Linked DNA regions of Homo sapiens: region 2 is linked to region 1. Evidence: fine-mapped QTL for protein levels in blood plasma. Region 1 holds a variant in brackets. A gene starts in the other region. All regions are shown on their reverse strands.

Region 1 (4,395 bases):
TCAGACTCAGAGATTTTATTACATTACTGGTGGAGGAGGCAAAATTCCATTCCAAATATAATGACACTTTTGGAGCCTGAAAACCTGCAAACTTTTAAAAATGATGTGAGGCAGACTGAATAGTCCTCCTGACTGAAGCATATACACAAATGTGCAATTGAGAATCCCAAGACCTGGCCAGACAGAGCTCTGCAATGTGATGCTTGTTGATTTGATGCTCCTTTGCCGTGAAGGAAGCTTAATGCTTTGTTTCTTTCTCTTTAAATGGACAGGTAGAGTCAGTTTGCATCAGTGTGAATGCATGTAATTAGTACAAGGAATTCTTTTCTCAGTAAATCAACAAGTGTTTATGGAGTGTCTATTACATTCAGCAAAGCTCTCTGGGGATATAAAATATATAGACCTGCTGCTCATAGACAAAATAATTTTAGCATCTACTATGTGCCAAGCTCCTTGTGTACATTATTCTCTCCACATGAAACTTCTGCAGAGTTGACACCTTAGTACCCATTCTACAAATGGGGAAACTGAGGACTAGCTGCGATCACCTGTGCAGTTGTTGCAGCTGCCAGGGTTACCCACTCTCTTTTGTCGGGTGCTTACTGTGTGCTGCACAATGGGCTGAGCTCTGTCTACTGTCTTGTAGCACCCTGTGAGGTAGATTGTATTACTCACCCATTTTACAGAAGAGGTAGGTGACAGCGGGAGAGGCCAAGTGACTTGGCAGCAGGTGCTAGCATTAAGATTCACAGTAGACTGAGCACGGTGGCTCACGCCTATAATCCCAGCACTTTGGGAGGCCTAGGCAGGTGAATCACGAGGTCAAGAGTTGGAGGCCGAGGCAGGCGAATCGCGAGGTCAAGAGTTCGAGACCAGCCTTGCTAACATGGTGAAACCCCGTCTCTACTAAAAATAAAAAAAAAAAAAATTAGCTGGGCATAGTGGTGGGCACCTGTAATCCCAGCTACTCAGGAGGCTGAGGCAGGAGGATCGCTTGAACCTGGCAGGTGGAGGTTGCAGTGAGCCGAGATCGTGCCATTGCACTTCAGCCCAGGCAACAGAGTGAGACTCCGTCTCAAAAAAAAAAAGAAAAAAAAAAGATTCACGGTAGAGACTCTATTGGTTGGTCTGGGCCATCCTAGGCCATTGCCAGACTACTGAGTGTTCCCCTAGAGCACACGCTAGAAAGAGGAGACCCAGACATGAGATGCCCACATATGTGTTTACTTCTGGGAAGACAACGTGCAAGACAGAGCTGAGTTCTGTGGAAGCAACGCCAAGTGTTACAAGAGTTCAGGGAAACAGAAATGTTGCTGAGGGCTGGAAGTGCTGGGGCAGGTGGGTCTGAGAGAGGACCCTGAGCAGAAGTGGGGTTGCATCCCAGAAAAGGTGAGGTGTGATGCTGCCCCTTCTTCTTGCTCTGTGGTTTCTTTTCCTGGTTTCATTTACCTCATCACTACTCTGCCAGACCGGTTTGATCACCTGAGTATCTGTGTCACTGCTGGGTGATCCATGTGTGGTCAGATCCGTGTGCCCTGAGCGTCCTGACCTGCTCCTACTTCCCACCACTACTGCCATACACACGTTCCACATCCATGCCTATTCCATCCCTACCTCTCTCTTTCTATATATATATATATATATACACACACACACACACACACACTTGTGTATATACACACATACATAATGTAAGAAAATATTCCATGCATATAAATATTATCTACATGTAAAATAAATATAATAGAGATAGTTAACTTTAGGCTCACACGTCTCCCAAGCAAACCACAAGCTTATGAGTGCAGGACTCTTACGTGTTTCCTTCCGCAGAGCCCTGCACACTGTAGGGGCTGGGGCGTGACTTGGCGAGTACAGCAAGTCTGGCTAGAGTTTCTCAAGGGTGTGCCCATGGGGATTAGTGGAAAGAGCTCTGTGCTTGGGTTGGGTGGTTTGCCCACTCCACCTTTTATTCTCCTTGGGTAAGTGGCTTGGGACCTCATTTGCCCTTTCCAATGGGATAGCAACATGTTTCTTTTTGGAAGCTACTGTGAAAGATGATGATCTGGGAGGGACTTGGGACACAGGCTTATTTGTTACACAGATGC[C/T]ACCGGCCTTGCATCTCTCTTGTGAGCTCAGAAGTTGCTTGACATCACTGCCTTTTTCATCAGGTGGTTCATAGGAAGAGGCCAAGAGAGAGAGAAGGATGCTGTATTTATGGGAAAAGGCTACCAGAATTTCCATCCGAGGTTGGTGGTCCATTCCTCTACCTATGTGGAAGGCAGGTTCTCCTTGACAATAGCCAGGTCTGCATGTGTCTTCCACTCAATCTACAACGTATCCACGGAGAGTGACCTTGTACTCAGTACTCAGTACTCCAGCCCCTTGGCTGGAGTTAGCTCTGCCCGCTCCACCCCTGTGCCTTTTCTGGCCCACTTGAAATTTGATGTCTTGGGTTGTAGCCTATTTTTAAGGTTGAGTCTCACTCTTAGACTATGAGCTCTTGAAAAATAATAACTGTGTCTTATTTGTCTTTGCTCTTCCACTTACATATAGGAACTACTAATGACATTTAGCAAATGTCTCTTTATCTTTTGATGGAGCAGAGAGAGGTCTGAGGATGAACTGCTTTCATCTTCTCGCTGTGTGATCTTGCACGGGTCCTTTCCTATCCCTCCTCTGCCACTCTTCTAGGACCGAAGGGGTTCGAGGGTGACCTTTCTGGCCACTTGCAATTGCTAAGAGTGTATTGATTTGAGAATTAAAGGAACGTGGCTCTTGAAATGTGTGTGCGGTAGAGGCCATCCAAAATAGCTAATGAAGAAACATCCTGGGGATTACGCCAAGTTCACAACGCATTTTAATGAGCCGTGAGTGTGTGTGAATGCGTGTGTCGACCACATGCACATTGATGGCTGTGGCAGGGAGGACGCTGTTTCTGAGAGTAGAGTCCTCACTTCTGAGAAACTTACAGAAGGTGGAACAGATCACGCCGTATTTCATAGCAGCCTAATTCTGACATGCATCTGCAAGCCTCATAAGTCGTGGTTTGGTCGGTGCTGCCCATCAAATCAACTTCCTGAACTTGTTTTCATCTGAACTCCAAGGCAGCCCAGGCGCGGGGGGAGCGCAATCGCTCGTGTCTGACTGGCTGCCTCTGAAGTCGTCCGTTACCAGTAGTCTGTTTAGAAGGTGGATTGTTAATTGTTTGATTTTTCTGCCAACAGGATTCCCTGCAAATTAGAATTGTAATCGCTGTGGGTATTTCCTGAATTAAAAGAAAATATATAATAAAATAAATAAATATTAGTTGTTTGGTTGTATAAGCTTTTGAGACCTGCGAGGCTCCTCATCAATTATTAAACTTGGCCGAAGATGACATTCCTAACTAGTGAGTGTGCCTGGAAAAAAAAAGACGCTGGCTAGAAAGCTTTGAGGCGCAAATTTCCACGTTCTTACTGCTTGGCTCTGAAAGTCTATGCCCGGAAGCTTTAATTTCTTTAATACTATATAATATAATTATATAGTACTTAAAAAACATGTAGTGTAGTTATTAAATATAGTTAGAATTTTAAATGTATCATTTGATATATTTAATACACACATGTATATATGTATTTTTAAGTGGGGTTTGGGCATTATTTAGTGTTCACACCTACGGAGCTCATTTGTCCAGCGCTATATTTAGGCATCAATAGGAGCGCATTAGGTAGCAAATAGCAACATGCTGGATTGGACACACTTCATAATTTGATGGCAGGAGAAAAATGGCAAAATATCGCTCTGGTCAAAGTTATTAAAGGCCAGGTTCACTACACGGTTCTGGTTAGGAGATAAAATATGAGAGGGCAGCTTACATATTGCCGTGATTAAATATTTACTGTTCAAAGAAGATTCACAGAACTTTTTAAAATTAATGGCTTCGAGTCTTTGTTTGGATAGTATCACAAGTATTGAACCATTTATTGAACTGTTTGCTGAGCTATTTTACTATCGTTAGTGACATCCTACATTGCCAGCCTTTCTCTCTCTCTCTCTCTCTCTTTCTTTCTCTCTCTCTTTTAAAAGAGAAATAGAGTGGAATCGCTCCCTTTCTGCTCTCACCAGCTGGTAGATATAAATTATATATTAAACTGTATTTGCAATGGATCACTGCAAGTGACAAGTAGTTTTCCGAAGGCTTTGTCATTGCAATGGAGTGTGCGCCTTTCGTACAGTGGTTAATATGAGTCCTTATTCATATTGTCCAAGTCTTCAAAAACATAATTCAGAAAAATGGGCAGCACTTAATAGAGCTAATCTCTTGTTCTGATTCAGCCTTCAAGATCAGCAGCCTGTAAATAAGTAAAAAAAAGGGCCTAAACGGATTTAGCGCTGTTAATCTTTCCATAGTGGGGA
Region 2 (4,395 bases), not on the chromosome of region 1:
TTCCACTTGATTCTGTGCTTGATGCCCCTCGTCTGGACCGCAGAGAGGTGGCTGAAGAGCAGCATGCAGACAGTGGCCAGCCACCACCAGCTCAGGTGCTTCCTCATCGCGTCAGAACCTGCCAGAGAAACGGCGGTGGGTCAGCTCCCCACCAGGCCTGCCTGGGCTCCCCTGCCCCCTCCCAAGTGCAGGAGATTTTAAGGAAGGAATCGCATCCTTGTGCTATTTATGTGGTCTCAAAAGCATAATTGTTTCCCCATGTTTGGGTTGTGCAGGGTTAACTCAAACACCGAGCTCCTTTGCTATTGCTAGGATTACATTCACTCAGGGCTCTGGTCCCGGTTTCCGAGACAGGTAAGAATGGCAAAGGGCAATTATAGTGGCTTTGAATACGCATGGGAAAATAAAGGAGTGGTGACTTAATACATGTAGGTTTTCTTTGATACTCCCAAGTCTTTCAAATCAAGAAATCCCTGGGAGGAAAATACAATAGAAGAGTTGGAATCAAATGCTGGTGGGCATGGACTATATGTGTGTGTGTGTGTGTGTGTGTATACACGTATATATATACACATATATATGTATATATACACGTATATACACACACATATATACATATATACACACATATATGTATATATACACACATATATATATACGTATATGTACAGACACACACACATACACACACACACACACACACACACACACACACACACATATTTTAGAGACAGGATCTCACTCTGTTGCCCAGGCTGGAGTGCAGTGGCATGATCATAGCTCATTGCAGCCCTGAACTCCTGGGCTCAAGCAATCCTCTTGCCTCAGCCTCCGGAGTAGCTGGGACTACAGGCACACACTACCACACCCAGCTAATTTTTAAATACATGTTGTAGAAACGGGGTCTCACTATGTTGCCCAGGCTCAAGTGATCCTCCCACCTCAGCCTCCCAAAGTGCTGAGATTACAGGCACGAGCCACTGTGCCGACTTTAGATTGTACTTTCAATCTCCCCTCTTTGTTCTTTATTGCTCTGAGCTGGCACTGTCTTGGGGGCATTCTGCCATCCATTCTGAGGAATTCACTGGCTGCTGATCCTAAAGGGCTTTGCAGTAATGAGAGAGAGAGGAGGAGGAAGGAAGGGAAAGATGGAAACGTAGCAAAGGGACCCCTGCCTCCCCTATGTCCAGGGGTCAAGTGTGCTCCAGGCATCCTTTCCAATCTCACCCCTGGGGGACAGTGTGACCATCTGCTTATCCTACTGGCTTTTTATTGCATACTTTCTTCATGCCTGCCACCGTGTTAAGCTCTTCTCTGACATTGCCTAACTTAATTCTCACATAGAGTAGGTACATTATTATCCCCATGTTATAAATGTTGTCCTGGGATTCAGAGAAGTTAAGTAATTTGCCCAAGGCTGCACAGCGGGGAGGTGGCAGACCTGCACTGGGCTCTGTCTAATGCTGCACTGCATGTGTCCACTAGCCATGCCCCACTGCCCATCTGGGTTTCAGGAGAAGACAGTGCTCACACACTGTGCTTTTCACTCACTGGGTATGATGCCCCCTGAGCTGGGCAAAGGGCAAAGGGCAGGGCCCTTGAGGAATTTCGGAGAAAACGAGATGAAAGGGAAGACAGGAGGGCCTGGGGGAACACCAGGAGGGTCCCGGGTCAAGGTGGCCCTGGGACATCCGAAGGGCTGCCACTGATGTCATGGAAAAGCCCCTCACCCCACACCTTAAGGTTGCCTGTCACATTCGGCTCCTGAATCTACAATAGCCATCAAGGAAATCCACTTCCCAAGGCCGACTGTCAGGGCATTCTAGCACCTGGGTCTTTGCCTGTGTGGATTAGGGAAATGGAAGGAGTTCCCATACCGGAGCTTGCCTAAGCTGTCTCCTAGGCAAAGACTTACTGTGAGGCCATGGGGCCCCAGAGCTGGAGGAGGCTGACAGGGAGCTTGTTTCGCCCCTCACACACCCTCCACCACCCTGCTGCAGCTTCCCTAAAAGTGGCTAATGTTCCTCTGATAAAATGTTCAACTCTGATGCCACATTGCTCCTTATATTAAAAAAAAAAGGCAAAACACAGCTGAAGTGATCTCTAGAAGCACATCCAGTCATCTCTAGAAGCCTGCAAAGAGGCCTCACTGACCTTTCCTTGCTTGTAGACATCGCCTCGTCTTTGTCCCAGGGTGGCTATGAGCATCTGGACCCCCTCACCCCACTCTCTCTGCCTCCTGAGCACAGTGAACTCAGACTGACTTTCTCCAAAGAGATCCAAGCATGAAGCAAATATTCATTAGTCTCCTAAATAGGGCCATACTCCACATCATTCCTTTTTTAAGGAGAAATCTTAAATAAGATTAATGGCATAATAGATCATTTCAGGTGAGTCAAATAAAAAAAATAAAAGCACAGCATTCTTGAGAAAGAGATTAGTTTTCATAGGCAGAAGCTTAAAGGCAAAACAAAATCCCAACCCACAAACCCTAAAGTAGCATTTTATTATAGCACCAACTTAGAGAAAGGCAAGCCCAGTGATGACTGGGTATCCTCGCAAGTCTACCCTGAACTTGGGACCCATCCCCAGGTGTGGGAGTAAAGAAATCATTGCATGATTTTCAATCTGGGATCGAGCCTTGATAAGAAACCAGCAGTCCTGACCACAGAAGTGGCCCCCCACGTACCTTGGCTCTCTCTGGAGTGTGCCTCTGGAGCCTCGAGCTGCACAGTCCCCCAGCACACCCTCTTGGCAGCCAGGTCCGCCCAGCTATATAGGAGCTGCCGGGGGAGGTGGCATTCCTGCAGGTCTCCAAATAAGGCAGCCCTTCCCTCCCCGGCAGACCAATCAGGGCTTCCTGGACCACTCCTTCATCCTGAGAAGGATGGACCTTCTCATCACACTTTACTAAGGAAACCACGTGAAAATCTTGATGAAGTTCAGCAAGGCTTCAGAGGTGCCTTTTAGAATTGGAATGAGATGTGTTAGAAGGAAAATGCTTTTCCCATCAATATCTATGACAGATGTGGCTTCAACAAGCCTCGCTGGACATGCATAGTGTCCTGTACCTAAAGGCCGGCCTTGGACAGCAAAGCAGTCTTTGCTGACAGCCTCTGTGGGGAGGTTCAGCTCAAAAAGAGGGCAAGCGTTCACCTGGACCACCACGCCCTGAGGATGGGACCAACAGGGTGTGTGTGTGGTGGTGGGGGGGGGGGGCGCCGGGGGGCGGTTACACTTTCATCGGGTAGTGGGAAAACAGAACTGGTAGGTATGGGGTGGAAGACACGTGAGAAGACTTCCTGGCATGTTGGGCGAGGAATGCTTGAAGGACTGAATTAGCCCAAAGGCCAATAAGTTAAAGATCTGCGGGAACCCCGGGAGCAGAGACACATTGACACGCAGCCAGTCCCCTGGACAGGTGGTGCGGGCTGAGGGCGAGTTCTGCAGAGTGCCTTCTCCTCTACATGGTGTCCGAGCGCTGCGCAGAAGGGGCTGGAGGTGCATTCCTGGGCTTTCCAAAGCAAGAGACTCATTGGTATTGGGTGACCATTTTGGGCCTTATACAGAAGGGACTTGCTCAGGTGTCCCTGTTACAGTTAGTACTGCAAGGCAAAGTCAAAAGTGAATATGGGAGCAAGTATGGGGCCAGATTTTCCTGTAAACAGAATGCGATTTTTATGCTGAATGTGACCCCGTCAGTGTTCACGGTGGATTTGCGTCAGAGCAATTTTGCAAACCAAATTAAACGGTTGTTATCGAGAAGGACAGCAGATAGCGCCAGAGAGCTGACAAAGACCGCAGCCGGTCGGTGGGAAACCCGGGCTTCTGGGCTCTGGGTGGATTTGGGGCCTCCGGTTGGGCCTTTCTTTCTCCTCTGACTTTAACATTTGTTTCACTTCCCCACTTTTTTTTTTTTAAGAACTTTTCTATTTCCTTTCTAGAACCACAGACTTTTTGTGCTTCTGAATACACACAAAACAGAAACACAGTAGTGTAATCTTAGTACAGACTGTTTGCAAAATGGAGATGAAAAAATCAAAATCTCCTAATAGTTCAGTACCCAGAGACAAATGTCAGGACAATTTTGTTTCACATATAGATACTTAGGGCCACAGTGTTTAGAGCTAGAAAGGACTCAGAATTCTGTGGTCCAGCTCCTTTGCATGGTGAGCTCACAGGCCCAGATAGGCTCAAGGTCACCCAGCCAGGCCGGCAGTGCAGCCTCGGCAGGCTCGTTGTCCCATTGTGAACTCTGTGCACTATCCCCCTGCCTGTTCCCACTAGACACAATCATCTCCAACCCCCTCCACCCCTCTTCTTCCTATTCCCTTTCTAAGCAGGACTTTACCCAGAGAATGGTGGGAGGTTGGTTTAGAGCTGACGTGGCAGCAG

Which allele goes with the higher level. Alleles are on the strand shown, and positions count from the first base shown. The strength of an association depends on the size of the effect and on how common the allele is.
For the plasma level of the protein whose gene starts at base 2,750 in region 2, T is the high allele of the variant in region 1 and C is the other (weak association).

What was found. A credible set is the group of variants that fine-mapping cannot tell apart. PIP is the chance, under the fine-mapping model, that this variant and not a neighbour inherited with it causes the effect. Protein levels are from antibody-based Olink assays in UK Biobank. Linkage for the fine-mapping came from a reference panel and not from the study's own genotypes, which makes the PIPs less certain.
Region 2: PRND starts here. The variant in region 1 is the best candidate, but not a certain one, in a credible set for the plasma level of the PRND protein (UK Biobank, PIP 0.56).

What each region holds. Positions count from the first base shown.
Region 1 is chr10:129,034,230-129,038,624 of GRCh38, reverse strand. It overlaps LOC124902559 (a long non-coding RNA gene), which reads left to right and starts at 1,872. Exons shown (of 2, transcript XR_007062390.1): 1 at 1,872-1,979; 2 at 2,169-3,306. RefSeq lists an enhancer at 3,714-4,395. The variant C/T (reference allele first, on the strand shown) is at 2,106.
Region 2 is chr20:4,720,264-4,724,658 of GRCh38, reverse strand. PRND (prion like protein doppel) reads right to left here and starts at 2,750. Exons shown (of 2, transcript NM_012409.4): 1 at 2,690-2,750; 2 at 1-118. The coding sequence starts at 107. RefSeq lists an enhancer at 3,828-4,047.